Linked DNA regions of Homo sapiens. The protein of the gene in region 1 purifies or fractionates together with the protein of each later gene. This does not show direct contact. Each region holds a gene or a part of one and is shown on either strand. Other genes may lie near its edges.

Region 1 (10,942 bases):
TGAAATGTGAAGACATGAGATTTGGAGGGGCCAGGGATGGAATGATATGGTTTGGGTGTGTCCCCACCGAAGTCTCAACTTGAATTGTATCTCCCAGAATTCCCACATGTTGTGGAGGGACCCAGGGGGAGGTAATTGAATTCATGGGGGCTGGTCTTTCCCATGCTATTCTTGTGATAGTGAATAAGTCTCACAAGATCTGATGGGTTTATCGGGGGTTACGCTTTTGCTTCTTCCTCATTTTCTCTTGCTGCCGCCACGTAAGTAGTGCCTTTTACCTCCTGCCGTGATTCTGAAGCCTCCTCAGCCATGTGGAACTGTAAGTCCAATTAAACCTCTTTTTCTTTCCAGTCTTGGGTATGTCTTTATCAGCAGCACGAAAGCAGACTAATACAGGGACAGTATGACCTCATCTCCTACTAGTCTTGTCTTTCTTCTCCACACTACAGCCACAGTGGCTTCATCATTGTTCTAACATGCCAGACATGTTTTTGCCTCACGATCTTTGCATTTACAGCCTCTCTGCTTGGAACCATGTTCCCCCACATATCTGCGTGGTTAAGTCCACGCACTTCTCCAAGTCTTCACTTGAACATAACCTTTTCAGTGAGTGAGGCCCTGCCAGGCAACCCTTTCTCAAATTGTACACTCCCCCTACTACCAGATCGTTTCTCTTCCTCCCACTGTTTTCATTTGTTCTCTTTGTTAATTATTACAGCCAATATGCCACATGTATTTTTATTTTTTGTGACTGTCTGTCTCAATTACTAATGAGGGCAAGGTTTTTGTCTGTTTTGTTCTCTGCCAAATCCCCAGAACTTAAAAAAAAGTCAGTAAATATTTGAATGAATAAATAAATCAAAGAAAGATCTTCTTGCAGTCAAATGCTATCAGTTTAGCATTGCACTGTTAGAGTTTAATCTTCAATATAAACAAGATATTTTGATTGGGACCTCTTCCTTCCTAATCAAAGGCCCAATGCCAACAACTCCTGCATTCTCTCTTTCCCTTAATTCAGACTAATGCCTATTATTCTTTTGCTTCTTCTTAATTTTTTTTTCAATTTCCTACCATGATAAGGGATTCCCTTAATCCCTTTTAATGATATTTTGTAAATCTAGTTTTTTCTTGTACACATCCTTCCCTTATACTCTCAAGGAAGTCAGAGTTTATAGGGCATACTTTCTGATTTTAGAAAGCACATTACCTTTATCCCCAAATGAGATGTTGACCACGGTACTCAGTGACCCTGCACATTTTATTATAAATCCTACATGGTCTGCCAGCTGTGGAATTAAGGCTGTCTGGTGTATGGTTCCTGGTGTCACCCTGAGGACCCTTGTTGCAGACCGGAGCTGTGTTGACAACCTGACAGTTCTCTGGCACACTTATGCTCATTTAAACGGGTACATTTTGTTCAAGGACGCAATTTCACCCTTGATTTCTTTCAGATCCCATGGGTAGATACCATCTGGATCAAGGGATTATTTTATATTCAGGACCACTAAGTCATAGGGGATTCTGTTACCTTATCCAAATTTAATTTAGTTCCTGTTTTCTCTGTTTCAAAAGACTGCAAAGTTCCCATCATATATTTTCTTAATGAAGCCAGGAGTTGGTTGGGTCTCCCTTTGTCCTTTTCACCCATGAACACCTATTTTGCACTCTATCAAATGGTCATGATGAGTCTCCAGCCAGCTCTGTGTTTTTCATGTGTTTTTAAAGCATTTTTAATGATTGTTTTCCCCAAAACTATCCAAAGTTATCCTGCCCTTCAGTTCCAACACAAGTCCTTTTCCTCAGCCTGTCTTTATCTATCCCTACATTCCCATCATGCTTATAGTGTATGCTACATAATTTATCTTCAGTAGTATATGCTTCCCTCTTTTCTCTAATCTGAAGTTTTGTGTTATATTTTTCAAATGGCTGATGTCTTGAAAAATGCAAAGAACATAGAAGGTGTTCAAAATATGCTTCCTGATATGTAGCCTACGTGATATTAGCTGCACAGTCTGTACAAAGCAATTCTGGATGGACTCACCATTAAGATTGAAATATGCTAATGGTAATATAACACCTAAATTTGATAAGATGAAGGTGGTATATATAAATATAAATTATGCACTAATAATTTGTAAGTATAATAAAATATAAAATATAACAAATAAATATACATATAAATTGTACCTTACACAGAATTAAAATTTTTCATTTCTATCGTAATGACACTTGGGAAAATAAGTAGATTATAATTAAGAAACAACATTTACAACATTTCATTGTAATTGCTACTCTTTCTAGTAAAAAGTATGTTTTACAAGGATTAAGAGTATGCAGTGATGCCTTCAAACAAATTATTAACCAGTCAATAGATCATAAATTAAAAATGTATAAAGAAAAACATAATACAATAAGATCTTTACCTGAAGTCATATGCAGAATAACCTTTGATTGAAAATCCAGAATGTGAACCAGAAAAGTAATGGCACAGACCATTTTGTGCTTTAAAAGGATATTCTGAATCTTTCACCAGTTTTACTTGCATCTAAAAGAAAACAATCACTGAACATGTTTACTGTCAATTGTTTTATAAATCAAATAGAACTTACTTCACTGTGTCAAAACAGGTTCAATTTCACACACCTTCATCATGTGGATATACTTTGCGTTCTTTTTTTTTTCTTTTTCTTTTTTGAGACAGAGTTTTGTTTGGTTGCTCAGGCTGGAGTGCAGTGGCTCGATCTCGTCTCACTGCAATCTCCACCTCCTGGGCACCAGTGATCATCCCACCTCCGTCTCCCCAGTAGCTGTGACTACAGGTATGAGCCACCACGCCAGGCTAATTTTTTGTATTTTTTGTAAAGATGGGGTCTCACTCTGTTGCCCAGGCTGGTCTTAAACTCCTGGACTCAAGAAATCCACCTGCCTTGGCTTCCCAAAATACTGGGATTACAGGTGTGAGGCATTGTGCCCAGCCTATACTTTGGGTTTTTAATATTATAAATTAAATCTTTAGGTGCTTGTTCTGGATAGTCTAGACATTTGGAGTCAATATCTTTCCTTCTCCCTTACTTCTCTTTATCTTACAGCATCCTTTTGTAGATCCTCCATGGATCTAGTAACAGTCTTGTCATCTTTCTCCTGACGGTGCTATAGGGCAGCTCACTTTCCTCCCAGTGCTTCTGGTTCTGCCAAGTCTTTCAGATTCCATCCAGTGGTTTATACACAGGCAACGGTTAGGTCAAGCATTCTTTCTATCACTTCACTTTTATGCCATTCATATAGCATATGTCAAATACTTCATAGTTATCTGTACAAAACCCTCCCTTTTTGAATGCTAGGCTAATGAAAGGGAGGAGACTCATAATTCATTGTCGTCTACAGTGTGTACAGAGCAGGTCCTGGAATACGTGATTAAAAATGCAACCAATGGATAATGGAAGAGAATTCAGGTTTGGGGAACTCTGGTTTGATGACGTTCTACAGAAACTAATAGCACCCTCATTGGCAAATTTCATGCAGTTGATATCGGATCTGGGACACTGTCAGGGCAAGTGCTAAGAACGCTGAGGGACACTGGGGTATACTGAGCAAAGCCCTACTGTGAGAGGCTGGGGACTGAAGGTACAACTCCGGCTCAGCTACTGACTTGACAAAATGATCTCACTTCTCAGGCTTCATTTCTTCATCTATAAAAAGAGCTACAGGCTGGGTGTGGTGGCTCATGTCTGTAATCCCAGCACTTTGGGAGGCTGAGGCGGGTGGATCACAAGGTCAGGAGATCGAGATCAGCCTGGCCAATATGGTGAAACCATGTCTTTACTAAAAAAACAAAAACAAAAAACAAAAAACAAAAAAAACAAAAAAATTAGCCAAGTGTGGTGGTGGGCACCTATAGTTCCCAGCTACTCCGGAGGCTGAAGCAGCAGAAACACTTGAACCCGGGAGGTGGAGGTTGCAGTGAGCCAAGATTGTGCCACTGTACTCCAGCCTGGGTGACAGAGTGAGACTCTGTCTCAAAAACAACAACAACAAAAAAGAGCTAAAAAATTAGTCTCTAATGTTCCTTTTAACCTTAACATTCAGAAATTCTATGAAAATAAAAAAAATATATTCTCATCTTTCCGGGATATTATGAGATATTCAGATCTGCAAAAAAGCATGTATATATTAAGAAATGTTAAGAAATAAATATAAATATTTCTCTGAAGACAGACTTCAGATTTTTCCCCTTTTGATTTCTTGACAACTGCTTTGCCTAGAAGTGATTCATTTTTAAATATTCTGATTAATTACTTCATGCTTTGATCATCTACATTTCCGAACGTGGAAACATTATTTAATATATGTGAACAAACTGTTTGAATTTTGAACACACAGTAAACAAGCAAAAAAGGAAATAAAGAGTTTAAGAGGTTGAGAGACTAGTCACCTTGTTTAACCAGTTCAAAGCATTGAGAGTAGAGCCTCCATTGCAGCCATAATTATTATACGAACAGTCAATGACCTGCTGGACACTTAGGTCTTCCAGGGGCTTCCCCTTTATTGCATAAGCAGATTCCACTGCCCCCACCACGCTGAAGGCCCAGCATCCTCCACACTGTTTAAAAACAGAAAAAGGGGTGGTATTTCCAGGGTTTAAATCAACTTACCAACATCTCTAAATGTAACAAGTTATCAAATCAAGTAAGGCTTCCAGATTCTGGAAACCTACAAAATAAATACGCCTATCCTCTAGATTTTTAAACTGAAAAAAAGAGAAAACCAAAAGTCTCTTTTGAGCATCATTTAATTATTAGTTCATGTTGTCAGCATTATTACTATTCTAAATTTGGCAATGCAAGATAAAAGTGAATTTTTAGAGACCGAGGAAATACTTGGGCTAACTGATGATCTTCTAAAAGACCATTCAGTTCACTGAATATGTGACTTCTCTTTGTAAGTGGCTTTTCTTCTGGAGAGTGTGTGCCGACTCCCGCCCCAACCTTCCATCCCCCTTGCTTTTTTAAGGACACTCTGCTTCCATGGTCATACACCACTTCCATCCTAAGGGTGAGGAGGGGAAAGATGCATGTTGTGCTAATTATTTGATGGAGATAAGAGAATTAATAAATATTAATGAATTACTCTTTAGGCTATAAAGATGCCCGATTAAGTATGCTTATAGTGGATGTACATGAAATGTCCTAAGGATATAAATCCATATTAGTCATTACTCCAGTATTGGCTGCCAATCATGCTGATAGTGGATCTCTTAATTTGCTTTTACTTAACAAACTAGAACAAAAGAATAAAAGAACTAGTCCTGAAAGAAAGAGAGGAGACAGAGGGAATGAAATTAGGGATCGTAGGATCACGTAAAAGGAAGAAGGATCCACAGAAAAGGCAGAAGAGAGTAGGATTTGAGACTGGATGAAACTAACATAACTGGAGGGCCATGTGTGGCAGAGTTAGACCAAAAAAAAAAAGGAATGACAATTGGATATCTTTGCAGAGTTAAGTTTTGAGCAACTTTATGGCTTTAAGTGCTTTTTTAAAGGTTATATCTCTATCTCTAGTGCCTATGGCATAGTAAAAACACTCACTAAGTGACCATACAGCAGGGTCTCCAAACTTTGACAAAGGTGAACACAGGGCAGCTCATGCCTGTAATCCCAGCACTTTGGGAGGCCAAGGCAGGCGGATCATGAGGTCAGGAGTTCAAGACCAGCCTGACCAACATGGTGAAACCCCGTTTCTACTAAAAATACAAAAATTAGCCAGGCATGGTGGTGCGCACCTGTAATCCCAGCTACTAAGGAGGCTGAGGCAGGAGAATCTCTTGAACCTGGGAGGTGGAGGTTGCAGTGAGCCGAGATCGCATCACTGCACTCCAGCCTGGGTGACAGAGTGAGACTCCGTCTCAAAAAAAAAAAAGAGAAAAGGTAACAGGCTGCTGACATCACCCCTATAGCCAGCTTTAGTCAAGCCACAAGGGCAGTTCCTGCTTAAAAAAAAAAAAAAGTCTCTCATACATTCCTTTAATTAAAGATCTCTAATTAAAAGTTCCCTCTTCAATACACTGTGGACAATTTTTGAAAGGATTAGATTTATGTCTAATTGACATGTTATTACAAATCCAATAATAAAGCAAATGATTTGGTGGTAAAACTTAATGTACAAAAATAAATATAGACTCTGAGAAGCAAAAATCATTCTAACTACACATTGACTGCGAAACAGCTGGCACCAAAACACTTTCCATAAAAGGGAAGGCTGAATGATCTGTTGAGGTTTCCACTGCAGACAAACTGAGACTATCCCCTCTGGTTAGGGGTTTGACTTTGCCTGTTTGGCAGGCATTCCCTATGCCAACAGTTGGGAGTGTAGACGGGTAGGGAAGGTCAGCAAAGTATGCACACACCCCTCAAACGTCTGCCAGCTAGGTGGGTTCACTACATGCATTATAGGTCATACCCACCCACATCTGCTCTTACCACTTTCCTTCCTAGTTCAAAGGCACCTCCTTCCACCACTTCAGAATAACTCACAAGCTGCTGCCCTGCCAACTCCCATGTCCTCAGCACACTTTGAGTCTCTTTTCAAGGTAAATTGCTATATTTATTGCAGTACTTACATATTTCTTAATCAGTAAACATGTGTAAAACTGTGCTACTGTGTCTATTAGTTTTCTGTCTTTTAAAACATATGTCATTGACTAAGCTCGTAGGTAGTGTAACCTAACCTCATTTCTCCCATAATCCCTGTCATGCTACTGCTCAATTCTGCATAGGTGGTGATTTTCTGGAATGTATGCGTCACGTTATGGCTGAACTGACTACTAACTATACTTTTAAGGCCCACAGATTCAAAGGTATATGATCCTGTGAAGACGGGGGCAGATTTTCTGACAGAGCTTGCAAGATGAGGCTTGAGAACCCAGGAGATTCGGCCACACTGTTGGTAAATGTATCCATTTTCATTTTACTTTTTCACTTTTTTTTTCTTGAACCATTTAAGCCTTTAGTGCTCATGTTTACCTTCTCCAGCCTCTCATCTGCTATTGTACAGAAAGCTTGGTATCTGTGATACAGCTACTGGGAAGTATCCCTGAGCTGTTATTACAGCTACTGGGAAGTATCCCTGAGTTATTGTGTTGGTGGCAATGGCAATTAGTAAGAGTACACAGCAAGGAAGGTTTATCTTCAGAAATAAAAGTCAGGGCTTTGACATTTGACTCTCATTCCTCCAGAGATTCTCTTTTCATTGTCATTTTTGGATGACTGAGATGTGATTTTCCTAGAGAAATGATGTTTCCATTACAACTTTGATTAAACTTGACCTCAAAGCTGCCTTTCAATGCTTAGATGATTAGAAAAGAAGAGGGATTTCAACGTACCATCTGCTGGTTTCTCACTTGTGTCACAACCTGCTTGTCCCTCCAGTCAAATCTTAACGGCAAAGACACATTGGGGATGGACATATGTACTTCTGCTGAGTATCTGGGAAACTTGGAAGGTTTGCTTCTTAAATAAATGGCTGAGTAGAAACATAAAATGAAAATACAACCAATATTATATTACAATATATTATATTATATATATCATATATATTTGTTATATATAAAGACAATCAATATTATATTATAGGGAGACAACCAATATTATACTAAAAGACAACCAATATTATATTATATTATATCCTTGAGATTCTTTGGGAGGAACTTTTAAAGAAGAAACAGTAGCCTTCTAGTAGACCTGCTATTTTAGATTTTCTCTTGTGCTTTTCTATAACATAAAATGCATTCATTAAAAACTACAAAAGAGAATTCCTACAATAAGGCTGGAGTTGACACATAAAATGATTTGTTTGATAGAACCAGGTCAATAATAAAAATAAGTATAATTGACATCATTTGTTCTATCATAACCCATGGAACCATGTGTGTCCTGAAGAGAAAAAGCACTAGAAAACTGCAGAAGTGATTAGACAATTATCCTTTATAGCCACATGGAAATGTGCATAATTATAACATTCATTTCTTAAGCAGTAATTAGAAGAGACTGGCCATGAATTTATTTTCTTATGTGAGCACATGGTACATGCCTGACATTTAGTAGACACTTAATAAATGTTAACTATTACTCAATATATTAGATTTACAATGAAATATTTATCAAAAGTTAAGCAAGCAAATTAAAATCAGGAAACCACCTAAATAGCAACATCGGACTATACCTTTAAACTCTTCAGGAAACAAATAGGAAAACTGATTTATTCCATAGAAGGCGGTGGAGTTTTCACTGGGAAATAAAGAATTCAAGTATCGATGTCTATTAAGACTTTCCTAGAAGAAAAACAAAAACTATTTCATATCCACTATGTCAGTTTTCCAAAGTAAACTGTGTATAACTAACTTGGAGAAATTTTTCAATTATAAAGTTAAAGCTTGATTTCCTTCAGACTACAATGTAAAGTTGTATAAGATATCCATAGGAGATTCATAAATATTTTCTATTAGAATTATTATCTAATTGCAGACATTTTTTGAGGCTGAGAAAAGTGTATTTTATTCATTTATAATTCCCCATCACCAGGTTTGTTGCAAGCATTCCATATACAGCTGTTAAAGTATTGACATAGTGGGAAAAAAGAAATAGACTGCAAATAAACACTAGATACTAGAAGCAAATTGTCACCTTTAGACATTCACTCATGTGGTTAAACAATTATGAATATGGAATATGTCCTCTTCACCTTTGTGTTTCCCGGAACTAAGTAATGAAGCATGAAAAACAGACTGGGTAAATAAATTAATAAATCAATCTGATTCTATTAAAGCTTTATAGATATCTCTATCTCATGTAGGGTACAAAGGCTCTGTGACAGATGCAATTCTGGAAATATTTGAAGAAGATAGCCTGGTTTCTCTATCTGGAGGGGAAATGTGACCATTATTTACTGATTTCTCAACTTTGAATTTTGTGACAATTTATCTTAAGCTTATCTTTTATATATAAACATGCTTCAATTTCGTAATACTAACCAATTACATAGAATAAATAAAATTTCAGGGGGCTATCATTTGGTACCTTTCCAACCCTAGCGCTTCTACATATTTGTCTATGTACTTATGTGTTTATTGTGTGTCTGTATCAAAAACCTATAAGCAAAATGATGACTGCTTATATGTCTTATTCCTTATGGTGAGACACTCACTTAGCACATGGCTGACACACAATAGATCCTTGATAAGTGTTTGTTGTTGAATAAATAGATAAGTGACATTTTCCATATCATGCCCTTAATAACTTTAAGCTGTTTATTTTTAAGTAAATTATTGCTGGAAGTTGTCATAATCTTATTTTTTTTCCTTTTGTGCATACCTAGGAAGATTGCTAATCAACAAATTAATAAAGTTTTTGAGGTACTTTAAAATAATCTTGATGAAGCAAGGCTTTCAATATAACCTGGATATATAAATGTAAAAATAGAACTAGAATACAAGGTAATTCTGTATATGGCAAATGACAAATATAAGCCAGAGACTATTAACTGCTAAGGAATTCAGAGGATTCATTCATTCAATAAGTACTGCCTGGCCATCTTTGTGAGCTGGAGTAGTCAGGAAGGCACTGAAAATGTAGGATGTTAAGAATGCACAGGAGAGAATGTGGCAGCCATGAGAATGTGCCTCCCAGCCTTCTTTCTATAGGGAGTTTAGCTGCTGCTAGTTGAAATCTCCATGATCACACCAAGGGAAGCCACAGTTCTTACGGGCTGCACCTAGCTCATGACTTAGTGCTAAGGCTTGCTATTTGGGAGACAAATGGGACTCCCCTGACAGCTGGTTTTTGATTAATGACTCCCTGATGGCCTTGCCAAACCAAAGTTTCCTTGGACTGTGAGACAGCATGGAACTCTTCCCCAGTCTTCCTTCCTTTTTTCCTTCACTCAGGGTCAGAATTACATTGCAATCAGATAGCTCTACCTGGACCTCTCCCTATTAGTTCACAGGAATTGCTCCTGTGATTGATTAAAAAAAAAAAAAAAAAAAGCCTGGGAGCAGTGGCTCACACCTGTCATCCCAGCACTTTGGGAGGCTGAGGTCGGTGGATCATCTGAGGTCAGGAGTTCGAGACCAGCCTCGCCAACATGGTGAAAGCCTGTCTCTACTAAAAATACAAAAATTAGCCGGGCGTGGTGGTGGGCGCCTATAATCCCAGCTACTCAGGGGGCTGAGGCAGGAGAATCGCTTGAACCTGGAAGGCGGAGGTTGCAGTGAGCCGAGATCACAGCACTGCACTCCAGCCTGGACGACAGAGCGAGCCTCCAACTCAAAAAAATAAATAAATAAATAAAAAATAAGAAAAGAATGAGAAGACATGAATAACCAATTTACCAATATTAGGAATGAAAGAAGAGCCATGATTACAGATGCTTCAGGCATTAGAAGAATAATATTTTGACAACTTTATGACAATAAATTGGCAAACTGTACAAAATGGACAAACTTTTTGCAAGGCACAGATTGCCAAAGATGAAAGGAGAAATAGAAAACTTGAGCAGCCTTTTATCAGCTAAAGGCATTAAATTTGTAAGTGAAAACTGACTCACAAAGAAAACTTCAGGCCCAGGTGGCTTTTTGGTGAACTTTATACAATGAAGAAAGAAGTAATACCAATATTATCCTTTGAGAAAATCAAGAAGAAGGGAATACGCTGCAACTTAAATAAGACCAGTGTTACCCTGATTCTAAACCAGAAAAATGTATCTAAATAAAATAGAACTACATACCAGTATCCCTCATAAATACGCTGTAGACACAAAATCCTTAACAAAATAGCAAATCAAATCTAACAATATATGTTAAGGACAATATATTGTGACCAAGTGAAGTTTATTTAGAAATGCTAGGTTGGTTTAAAATTTCAAAATCAATCATCAGTACGATACACCATAT
Region 2 (10,942 bases), on another chromosome or scaffold:
GTTTGCCAACCTCTTTTTTTTTTTTTTGAGATAGGGTCTCACTGTTGCGCAAGCTGGAAGTGCAGTGGCATCATCTCAGCTCACTGCAGCCTCGACCTCCCAGGCTCAGGCGATCCTCCCACCTCAGCCTCCTAAGTAGCTGGGATTACAGGCACACTCTACCATGGCTGGCCAATTTTTTGTATTCTTTGTAGAAGGTGGATGATACGGTTTGGCTGTGTCCCTGCCAAAATCTTACCTTGAATTGTAATAATCCCCATGTGTAGGGAGACCCCCTGAAACTATTGCTACGGAATAAAAGATGAAATGCTCCTGATTATTGTAAATACAAAATTGCATGCAGGATTGTGTAAAGACAATGCCAGGTTGGACTGCCAGAACGAGCCAACAGCGTGTGATGTGCTTCCCCCTGCAAAGAGCCTATGAATGGATGTGCAATCACGGAGGATTCACATCACCAAGATTCCTATCCCAGAAAAGCAGATGTTCATAGCTCTGGGAACAGAATGCGACCCTTGTGGAGAGCCTATAAACGGACGCATTGGGGGCGCCTGTCCACATGGATAAGATAGGGCTATAAATGCCCTCATCTTGCCACGGTTCTTCTAGGCCTCTTTAGGGTTAAGACATACTCCCCTTCTGAGAATTTCTGGTCTAACCAGTTGTCTAGCTTCACATCCTGTTTCTATGGATTGTTTGTAACCAGCTTTTGCTACAACTGTTACTGCTGATTAATATCTTGCTAATCATAGGTTATGGAAAGACTGTGTTTCTGTTTTAAGGCTCTATTAGAAATTACTGATGCACACACTATATTGTAAATTCTTATCTCTGTATACTGTACTTCTACATACAAATGTACTATACTTCTACATACAAATGTTATGTTAAAGAATTATTTCATCCCCATGTGACCATCTCACCTCATAATCAAATGACCCTAAATCCCTCACTAACCTACCCCCGCCCTCACTAAACTTAGTAATAAATGCTGGTATATCCAGTGCATTGTTGGCACCGCGGGACCAGAAGACAGTGACCCCCCTGGACCCAGCTTTCACTATCTTGTGTGTGTCTATTATTTCTCAACCTGCCGATCCGCCTGGGAACAAAGAGAGAGCCCCATTGCATTGCGGGCTGCTGGCCAGATCCCACAATACCCATGTGTCAAGGGTGGGACCAGGTAGAGATAATTGAATCACAGGGGTGGTTTCCCCCATGCTGTTCTTATGACAGTGAGTTCTCATTTGATCTGACAGTTTTATAAGGGGCCTCCCCCTTCGCTCAGCTCTCATTTCTCTCTCCTGCCACCCTGTGAAGAGGTGCCTTCCACCTTTCCTGAGGCCTCCCCAGCCATGCAGAACTGTGAGTGAATTAAACCTCTTTTCTTTATAAATTACCCAGTTTCGGTAATTATTTATAGCAGCAAGAGAACTAATACACAGGGTTTTGCCATGTTGCCCAGACTGATCTCAAACTCCTAGGCTCAAGCCATCCTCCCACCTCAGCTTCCCGAAGTGATAGGATTACAGGTGTGAGCCACCATGCCTGGCTCCAACCTCCATTCTACATAAGAAATACTAAGAACCAGGCAGGGCATGGTGGCTCATGCCTGTAATCCCAGCACTTTGGGAGGCCGAGGTGGGCGGATCACCTGAGGTCAGGAGTTCAAGACCAACCTGGCCAACACGGTGAAACCCTGTTTCTACTAAAAATACAAAAATTAGCCGGGCACAGTGGCGGGCACCTGTAATCCCAGCTACTCAGAAGACTGAGGCAGAGAATCGCTTGAACCCAGGAGGCAGAGGTTGCAGTGAGCCGAGATCACGCCACTGCACTCTAGCCTGGGCAACAAGAGCAAAACTGTCTCAAAAAAAGAAAAGAAAAGAAAAGGAAAGGAAAGAAAAAGAAAAGAAAAAAGAAAAGAAAAGAAAAGAAGAAAGGAAGGAAGGAAAGAAAGAAAGAAAAGGAAGGAAGGAAGGAAGGAAGGAAGGAAGGAAGGAAGGAAGGAGAAATACTAAGAACCCTTATATGAGAAAAAGAAATAGGAATCTTGGGTTCTAGTCCCCACTCAGCCACTATCTAAAAGTGTGGTCACAGACAGTTCCGTCAGTCTGGTGGTTCTCAGAAGTGTGATCCCCAGACCTGTACTATCAGTATCCAATGAGAACTTGTTAGAAATGCAAATTCTGGCCAGGCACACTGGCTCATGCCTGTAATCCCAGCACTTTGGGAGGCCCAGATGGGAAGACAGTTTGAGCCCAGGAGTTAGACTAACCTGGGCAACATACTGAGACCCTCATCTCTACAAAAACTTTAAAAAATAGCCAGGCATGGTGGCATGCAGCTGTACTTCCAGTCACTTGGGAGGCTGAACCCAGGAGGTCAAGGCTGCAGTGAGCTGTGTTCACGCCACTGCACTCCAGCCTGGGCAACAGAGTGAGAGACCCTGTCGAAGCAAGGAGGAGGAGGAGGAAAAGGAGAAGGAAGAGGGGGAGGGGGAGGCAGCGGCGGCAGAGGAGATGGAAGAGGCAGAGGCGGCGGCGGAGGAGAACCCTGTCGAAGTCAGGGGGAGGAGGAGGAGGAGAAAGACGGAAGAGAAGGAGGAGGAGGAGGAGAAGGAGAAAGAAGGAAGAGAAGGAGAAGGAGGAGAAGGAGAAAGAAGGAAGAGAAGGAGGGGGAAGAGAAGGTGGAGGAGGAGGAGAAGGAGGAGACAGAGAGAGAAGGAGGAAGAGGAGGAGAAGGAGAAGGAAGAGGAGGAAGAAAGAAGAAAGAAGAAGAGGAGGCATGCAGACAAATTCCTTGGTCTCATTCCAGACCCACTCAATCAGAAACTGGCAGTGGGGCCCAAGAATCAAGTCTTTCAAGTGATTTTGATGCATGCTATAGTATGAGAATCATGCCTTTCTAGTTCTCAGTTTTCCCATCCATAACCAGGAGCTAGTTGTACTGGATGATTCGAAGGTCTATACAGGTTATAAAACTCTGACTCCAACCATATTAATATAAAAAGGATGGCCAAGCTGTAGCCAACTCTTTTGATAATTTTCAGTGACAATGAAAAACTCAAGATTTAAGAATTCTGGCTGGGTGTAGTGGCTCACACCTGTAATGCCAGCACTTTGGGAAGCCAAGGTGGACAGACTGCTTGAGCTCAGGAGTTTGAGACCAGCCTAGGCAACATAATGAGTCCCTGTCTCTACTTAAAAACAAAACAAAACAAAACAAAATCAGGACCTGTGTGGTGGCACGCACACATATTATTTCCATTTGTTCATTATCCTGTAGTAATATGGGTGTAGAACAGAGATTCTGTCTGGGTTTGTAAAAGAAACACCACTCATCCCCAACCCCATTCATGTAGCACGTTATTCTTATGAACTCTCCTATCAGTCCCAATCAGTCTTACCAACTAACTAGACAAGAAAAAAAATGACCTAAGACAGATCAGATTCTTGACTGAACACCAGAAGTAGGGTTGATATAAGTCAGAGCTAGGATCGTTCACTTGTGGATAACACGAGTGTGTCCACACTGAGAATTACGCAAATCTACAGAAAGAAGCAAGTGAGAGACCATAAGACCAGGGAAAGGTAGTGAGAATAATGGTGTAGTTGAACAGTGTTCCCCCCAAATTCACATCCACCTGAAACCTCGGAATGTGACTTTATTTAAAAATAGGCTCTTTGCAGATTTCCTTAGTTAAGAGTTGAGATCACACTTGATTAGGGTGAGCCCTAAATCCAATAACTGGTGTCCTCCTAAGAGGAGGAGAGAACAGAAACACAGCAAAGGTCACATGAAGACAGAGGCAGAGGTTGGGGGTATGGTGCCTGAGGCCAAGGAAAGCCGGGAGTTATCAGAAACGGAACAGGCAAGGACGGATCTTCCGTTAAAGAGAATGTATGTGGCCCTGTTGACAGCTTGGTTTTGGACTTTTGGCCTGTTTAACTGTGAGAATGAATTTCTGTTGTTTTTAATCCATCTAGTTTGTGGTTATTTATAATGGCAGCCTTAGGAAACTAATACATGTGGTGATTGATGCTCCTCGTATGTCTCACCCTTTAATTCTTTATTTATTCATTTATTTGTCCAACAAATACTTAGTGCTATTACATGTCCTATACTATTCTAGCACTGGGAATACAGTATTAATTTAAACAAAACACAAAAAATCCCTGTGCTGAGGTATATTTTATGGTATGTGAATTTTATCTTAATGAAAGTTTATTAAAGAAACCTTTGCCTTCATGGACTTTATATGCCAGTGGGCTGCCCTTCTATCCTTCCACAAATTCTAATTTTTGTTTAAGCTAGTTGAAGAGTTTTCTATTCCTTGTAATTAAATGATCTCCAAATCACATTCTATAATTCTATTATTAATAGTTCTTGATTACAGGAAGACTTGCAAACTTATTACGGTCACAAAACATATCCATGTTGCCAATTTATTTTAAATCCTCACCTTGTTTGACCTCTCAGTAAAATCTGATCCAGTCAACCACTTATTTTATCTTTCAAACATTCTTCTCTATACTTTTATAATCTCCTTGGTCTAGGAAATGTCACAGGGACTGGTAATACAGATAAGTAATTCCTGGAATACATCGGGGCTGGGGAGTAGCAGGGAGGGGGACACATGAAGAGAACCAAGCTTTCCACCAGGCCTTTCCTCCTCCTCGTTTCCCCTTAATTGGAACTGAGCTTTCAGGTGTGATATTCAGCAGATGGGGAGAGGTCCCATGAATGAAGCATAGCTGTGAGCTGGTGCAACTGGAGGGGCACACTCCACAGTTGCACTGTTGGCCAGAACCCCCCAAGAACAGAAGTCAGGTTCCTCACGGAATTACAAATATGGAAAGGGAGAAGGCTATAATAAACCCTGTGGTGCTGGGCTGCAATTGGAGGAATCATTATAAACTCAAGATTTTGAATACTTATAAATACTAAAACTGATATGTGTGTACATATGTATGTATGTCCATATATTCTTAGCTCTGTCCACTGCAAGGGTCTAGATCTGGGAGCACATATAGCATCCAGATCTCACTGTCTACTAAAAGGAACCAGGGTTCTTGGAAAAATGGCTGAGTCCAGGACTAGAGCAGGAAACATATAAGACAATCCTAGAAAAAGTCTTGTACCATAAAGTGAGGAAGTGATCAAATAAGAATGAGGATATGTCCAAAAGACACCAAGTACCAGCTTGAAAGGGTTACTGTGGCCAACTAAAGGACAATTTGAGCATCAAAATAAATAACTAACTTGATTGTTATCCTCTGAATACAATAGGAATCCAAGAGTCTGTACTGATTTAAAATTTTGAAACAAATGAGTATCTACATAAGTAATAAATAAAGGAGAAAGGAAAGCTCTACCCCACAGTAGACTGCTAAATAATAAATCCAGAATAAAGGAATTTTTTTTTTTTTTGAGACTGAGTCTCACTGTCGCCTAGGCTGGAGTACAGTGGCACCATCTTGGCTCACTGCAACCTCCAGCTCCCAAGTAGATGGGACAACAGGCATGCACCATCCTGTCCAGCTAGTTTTTTAATTTTTAGTAGAGACGAGGTTTCGTCATGTTGGCCAGGCTGGTACTGAACTACTGACCTCAGATGATCCTCCTGCCTCAGCCTCCCAAAGTGCTGGAATTACAGGCATGAGCCACTGCACCCGGCCAGAACAAAGGAAATTTAATTAAAAGACCATATTTTAACTTTAAATATTTAAATATCATAAGATATTCGGCAACTACCACAACAATAGATTCTGGCAATAATCATTAATGGGTGCTAAATCCATGGGTGAACATATGGTGGGGATCAGGAATATGTTATAATATCAAGGTATCTCCCCACAAAATATTTTTTAATATTTTAATTACATATTCAATATTTTAAATATTTCATATGTTATATTTATTATTTTAATGTGGAGAAACCTGGCAGACACCATCTTAACCAAGTGATAAAACACATCAGTAACAACAAAATCATCATGAGGTCTGCCTAATATGATGCACTGTTATGGACACAGCAATACCCCTATAGTGTTACTGTCAAAAAGGTATAAATCACAAAACATCAGATAAACCCAAACTGAGGGACATTCTACAAAGTAACTGGCTTACACTTTTTTTTTTTTTTTTTGGTAGACACAGGGTCTGGCTGTTGCCCAGGCTGGTCTCAAACAGCTGGGCTCAAGCGATTCTCATGCTCAGCTTCCCAAAGCACTGGTATTACCATACCCGGCCTGTATTCTTGACAAAGTGTCAAGGTCATGAAAGACAAGGACTGTTTCAGAATAAAGAAAACTAAAGAGAAATGATAAGTAGAGGCAATATGTGATCCTAGACTGATAAAGGACATTATTGGCTCAAATCAATGAAATGTGAATGGAGCTGGTGGATTAGACCGTAGTATACCATCAGTGTTAACTTCTTAATGATGGTTATACTGGAGTGTCCTGGTACTTAAAAATGTACACTGAAGAATTAAGCTGTAATGAGGCAACACGCCTGCAACTTATTCTTTAATAGTTCAGAAATATTAACAATTGGGTAATTTGGGTGAAAGGTATAAGGAGCTATAAATGTTATTTCTGCAACTTTTATGTAAATTTCAAGTTATTTAAAATGAAAAGTTAAAAAGTTTAAAACATAACAGAATAGAACATAACCTATTAAATAAATCTGAGTCCAGGCATGACACAGTGGTTCATGCCTGTAATTCCAGGGAGGGACTGGGAGGCCGAAGTGGGCAAATCACTTGAGGTCAGGAGTTCGAGACCAGCTTGGCCAACATGGCAAAACCCCGTCTCTACTAAAACTACAAAAATCTGACTGGACACTATGGCTCACGCCTGTAATCCCAGCACTTTGGGAGGCTGAGGAGGGCAGATTACGAGGTCAGGAGTTTGAGATCAGCCTGACCAACATGGTGAAACCCCCCCGTCTCTACTAAAAATACAAAAAAAATTAGCCAGGCGTGGTGGCACGTGCCTGTAATCCCAGCTACTCATGAGGCTGAGGCAGGAGACTCACTTGAACTCAGGAGGCAGAGGTTGCAGTGAGCCAAGATCACGCCACTACACTCCAGCCTGGACGACAGGGCGAGACAAGGTCTCAAAAAAAAAAAAAAAAATTAGCCGGGTGTGGCGGCACGCACCTATAGTCCCAGCTACTTGGGAGGCTGAGGCAGCAGAACTGCTTGAACCTGGGAGGTGGAGGTTCAGTGAGCCGAGATTGCACCACTGCACTCCAGCCTGGCTGGGTGACAGAGCGAGATTCTGTCTCAAAAAATAAACAAATAAATAAATAAATAGAAAATAAATCTGAGTCCATACTAACTAAATGGGGAGTAGCAGATTAATAAACAAAATGGAATGACAAAAAAAAAGGAATGACAGAATTGGAAAATCACACTGTAGAAATGATTGACTCAAGCAATTATCAATGGATGATAAAAATATTGGGTGAAAGCTTGATGAACAACTTGCATAGTCACAAAGTATCCCCCCGCAACTTGCTTTTTAATTACAAAAGGAAAGTAACTGCAGTCGAGACCTGGAAGATACCACCTTAATCAAAAGATCGAAGTTACAACAATAAAAGGACTCAGCATCATTAGTCTACTGATGCGCGCAATGAATAGGACATATTGTTTACATGGTATTTATACCAGAAATGCATAAACTGAATCTAATCATGAGTAAATACACAAACCCAAATTAAAGGACTAGCCTGTTCTCTGCAGAAGTGTCAATGTCGTGAAAGACAAAAGAAAATCTAGGGAATTGTTCCAGATTAAAAGAGACAAAAGAGACTAAAGAGACGTGATAACTAAATATAATGTATGACTAGGGAGGAGATAGCTATAAAGGATATTAATGGAACAATCTGGCAAAGGTTGAATGCATAATATATTAGATAATACTAAATGTTAAATTTAATGGGATAACTTTTCTGTGATTATATAATGTTTAAAATACCCTAGTCCTTCTCACCCACAGTTTTGTTTTCCATGGTTTCAGCTGCCCACAGTCAACTGTGGTTCGAAAATATTACATGGAAAATTCCAGAAATAAACAGTGGGGGATGCTCTAAAACCCCTAGTGGATGCCTGAATCCATGGATAACACCAAACCCTATATATACTATGTTTTTTCCTATACATAATGCTTGTGATAAAGTTTATTGTGTAAATTAGACATAGGAAGAGATTAACAATAATAAAACAATTATAACAATATGACAACATCACTTCTCTTGCACTTTGGGGCCATCATTAAGCAATGTAAGGCTTATTTGGATAAAAGCACTACAGGCTGGGCGAGGTGGCTCATGCCTGTATTCCCAGCACTTTGGGAGGCCAAGGCGGGCAGATCGCTTGAGGTCAAGAGTTCCAGACTGGCCTGGCCAACATGATGAAACCCCGTCTCTACTAAAAATACAAAAATTAGCCGGGTGTGGTGGTGCACGCCTGTAGTCCCAGCTACTCAGGAGGCTGAGGCAGGAGAGTTGCTTGAACCTGGAGAGTGGAGGTTGCAGTGAGCCATGATTGTGTCACTGCATTCCAGCCTGGGTGACAGAGCAAGACTCTGTCTCAAAAAAAAAAGCAAAACAATACCAAAACAGTTGACCTGATAACCCAGATGGCTACCAAGTGACTAACAGATGGTGAATGGATATAGCATGGATACGCTAGGTAAAGGAATGATTCGTGTCCTGGGTGAGACGGAATGAGATTTCATCACAATACTCAGAATGGTGTACAATTCAGGCCAGGCATGGTGGCTCATGCCTGTAATCCCAGCACTGCGGGAGGCCGAGGTGGGTGGATCACTAGAGGTCAGGAGTTCAAGACCACCCTGGCCAACATGGCAAAACCCCATCTCTACTAAAAATACAAAAAAATTAGCTGGACGTGGTAGCACGCGCCTGTAATCTCAGCTACGCCGGAGGCCGAGGCACAAGAATCACTTGAACCCGAGTGGCAGAGGTTGAAGGGAGCCGAGATCGTGCCACTGCACTCCAGCCTGGGTGACAGAGTGAGACTCCATCTCAAAAAATAATAATAAAATAAATAAAAAAGAATGGTGTACAATTTTAAACTTATAAAGTATTTCTGGAATTTTTCATTTAGTATTTTCAAACCACAGTTAACCACGGGTAACTGAAACCATGGGAAGCAAAACTGCAGGTAAGGGGAGACTACAATATCTTAAGTATTAAATTGCCACTTGTCAGGCTGACAGGTTCGAAGTTTCATCATGCACTCATGGAACCAATCTAGAGTCAGCCTTTCCTTAGCATTATCCCACCAAATAATTTCAGAACTGGAGACCTTTGTTTTTTCTTTTATCACAACAGGTTAAAAAGAAGGATACTTTTTTAATATAAACTTAACTTTTGGTCAAGATGTAATGGATGTTCTTGGTATTTTTGATCCTAATAGTCTTCACCATTTTTACTTTTAGCTTCAGTCTGTGGAATCTGCCTAGACTGAAGTTTTTTTTTTTTTGCTTGAACTAATCATTCAGGCATAGAAGTGCTCATTATTGGCAAAGTTAGAGGATAGCAACCTTCTCCCTGACTTGCAACATCAAGAAAGGTTTGGCCATAAAATAGAGATTCTGCTATTCGAGTTTCATTTGGTAAAATAAGTTCATCATTTTCACAGGACCACTGGATTGCCAGAAAGAGTGCTGCAACCTTTTCTGTAACTCCATACAAAGTTTGTATTACATAACTCGACTTATTAGGCAAAAAATAGGAATCACTTTTAAGTGGTGGCTCACGCCTGTAATCCCAGCACTTTGGGAGGCTCAGGTGGGTGGATCATTTGAGGTCAGGAGTTCGAGACCAGCGTAACCAACATGGCAAAACTCTGTCTCTACTAAAAATACAAAAATTAGCTGGCATGGTGGCAAGCAACTGTAGTCCCAGCTACTCGGGAGACCCAGGAACCCAGAAGGTGGAGGTTGCAGTGAGTCAAGATCACGCCACTGCCCTCCAGCCAGGGCAACACAGCAGACCCTGTCTCCAAACAAACAAACAAAAATCTAGCCTAATGGCATTTTTTTTTTTTTTGAGTCTCACTCTGTGGCCCAGGCTGGAGTGCAGTCGTGCAATCTTGGCTCACTGAAGCCTCTGCCTCCCAGGTTCAAGTGATTCTCTTCTCTCAGCCTCCCTAGCAGCTGGGATTACAGGCATGCACCACCACACCCGGGTAATTTTTATATTTTTAGTAGAGATGGGGTTTCACCATATTGGCCAAGCTGGTGTCGAACTCTTGACATCAAGTGAACTACCCACCTCGGCCTCCCAAAGTGCTGGGATTACAGGTGTGAGCCACCGCGCCCGGCCCCAATGGTTCATTTTAAAGAAAATTTAGTCGTTCTGGGGCTACTTTATCAAAATTTATTTATCTTCAGTTTTCCTCTATTTCTGCAATTTTTCAACAACATTCATATTTTGCTTAAGTTTCACAGATTATCACCAATTTAAATATAAAAACAAAAACATCTCAATATAGAAAAAGCTTGAGTAAAAGATAAATCATGTATCTAAAGTTAGTACAAAAGGCCAGGCTCAGGCAGCTCCCACCTCTAATCTCTGTGCTTTGAGAGGCTGAGGCTGAAGGATCACTTGAGCCCAGGAGTTCAAAGCTGCAGTGAGCTAAGATCCTGCAACTGCACTCCAGCCTGGGCGACAGAGAGAGCCCTTGTCTCTAAAAATAATAACAAAAGAAAAAAGCAAACAAACAAAAAATAAAATAAAAATAAGTAGTTAGTACAACAAATTGTTTGATAAGCCTCCAAATAAATCTTTGAGTTGCCTCCCCTGCCTTTCAACTCATTAGAGTGAACATCTAATCCCTCTATTCAGAATGCTGCATGCCTTATGTTGCCACTAGTTCTCTTATCAAAATCAACTAGTT

What was found.
Region 2: the proteins of CTSO (region 1) and LYPLA1 purify together in Homo sapiens (affinity purification with mass spectrometry; 3 studies listed by BioGRID and IntAct, with this or other methods). This does not show direct contact.

The regions. Positions count from the first base shown.
Region 1 is NC_000004.12:155,934,939-155,945,880, forward strand, and holds part of CTSO (cathepsin O preproprotein), read right to left. Parts: intron 8,327-10,942; coding exon 8,218-8,326; intron 7,519-8,217; coding exon 7,379-7,518; intron 4,601-7,378; coding exon 4,433-4,600; intron 2,546-4,432; coding exon 2,424-2,545; intron 1-2,423. UniProt on the Homo sapiens protein: Proteolytic enzyme possibly involved in normal cellular protein degradation and turnover.
Region 2 is NC_000008.11:54,089,616-54,100,557, forward strand, and holds part of LYPLA1 (acyl-protein thioesterase 1), read right to left. Parts: intron 1-10,942. UniProt on the Homo sapiens protein: Acts as an acyl-protein thioesterase. Hydrolyzes fatty acids from S-acylated cysteine residues in proteins such as trimeric G alpha proteins or HRAS.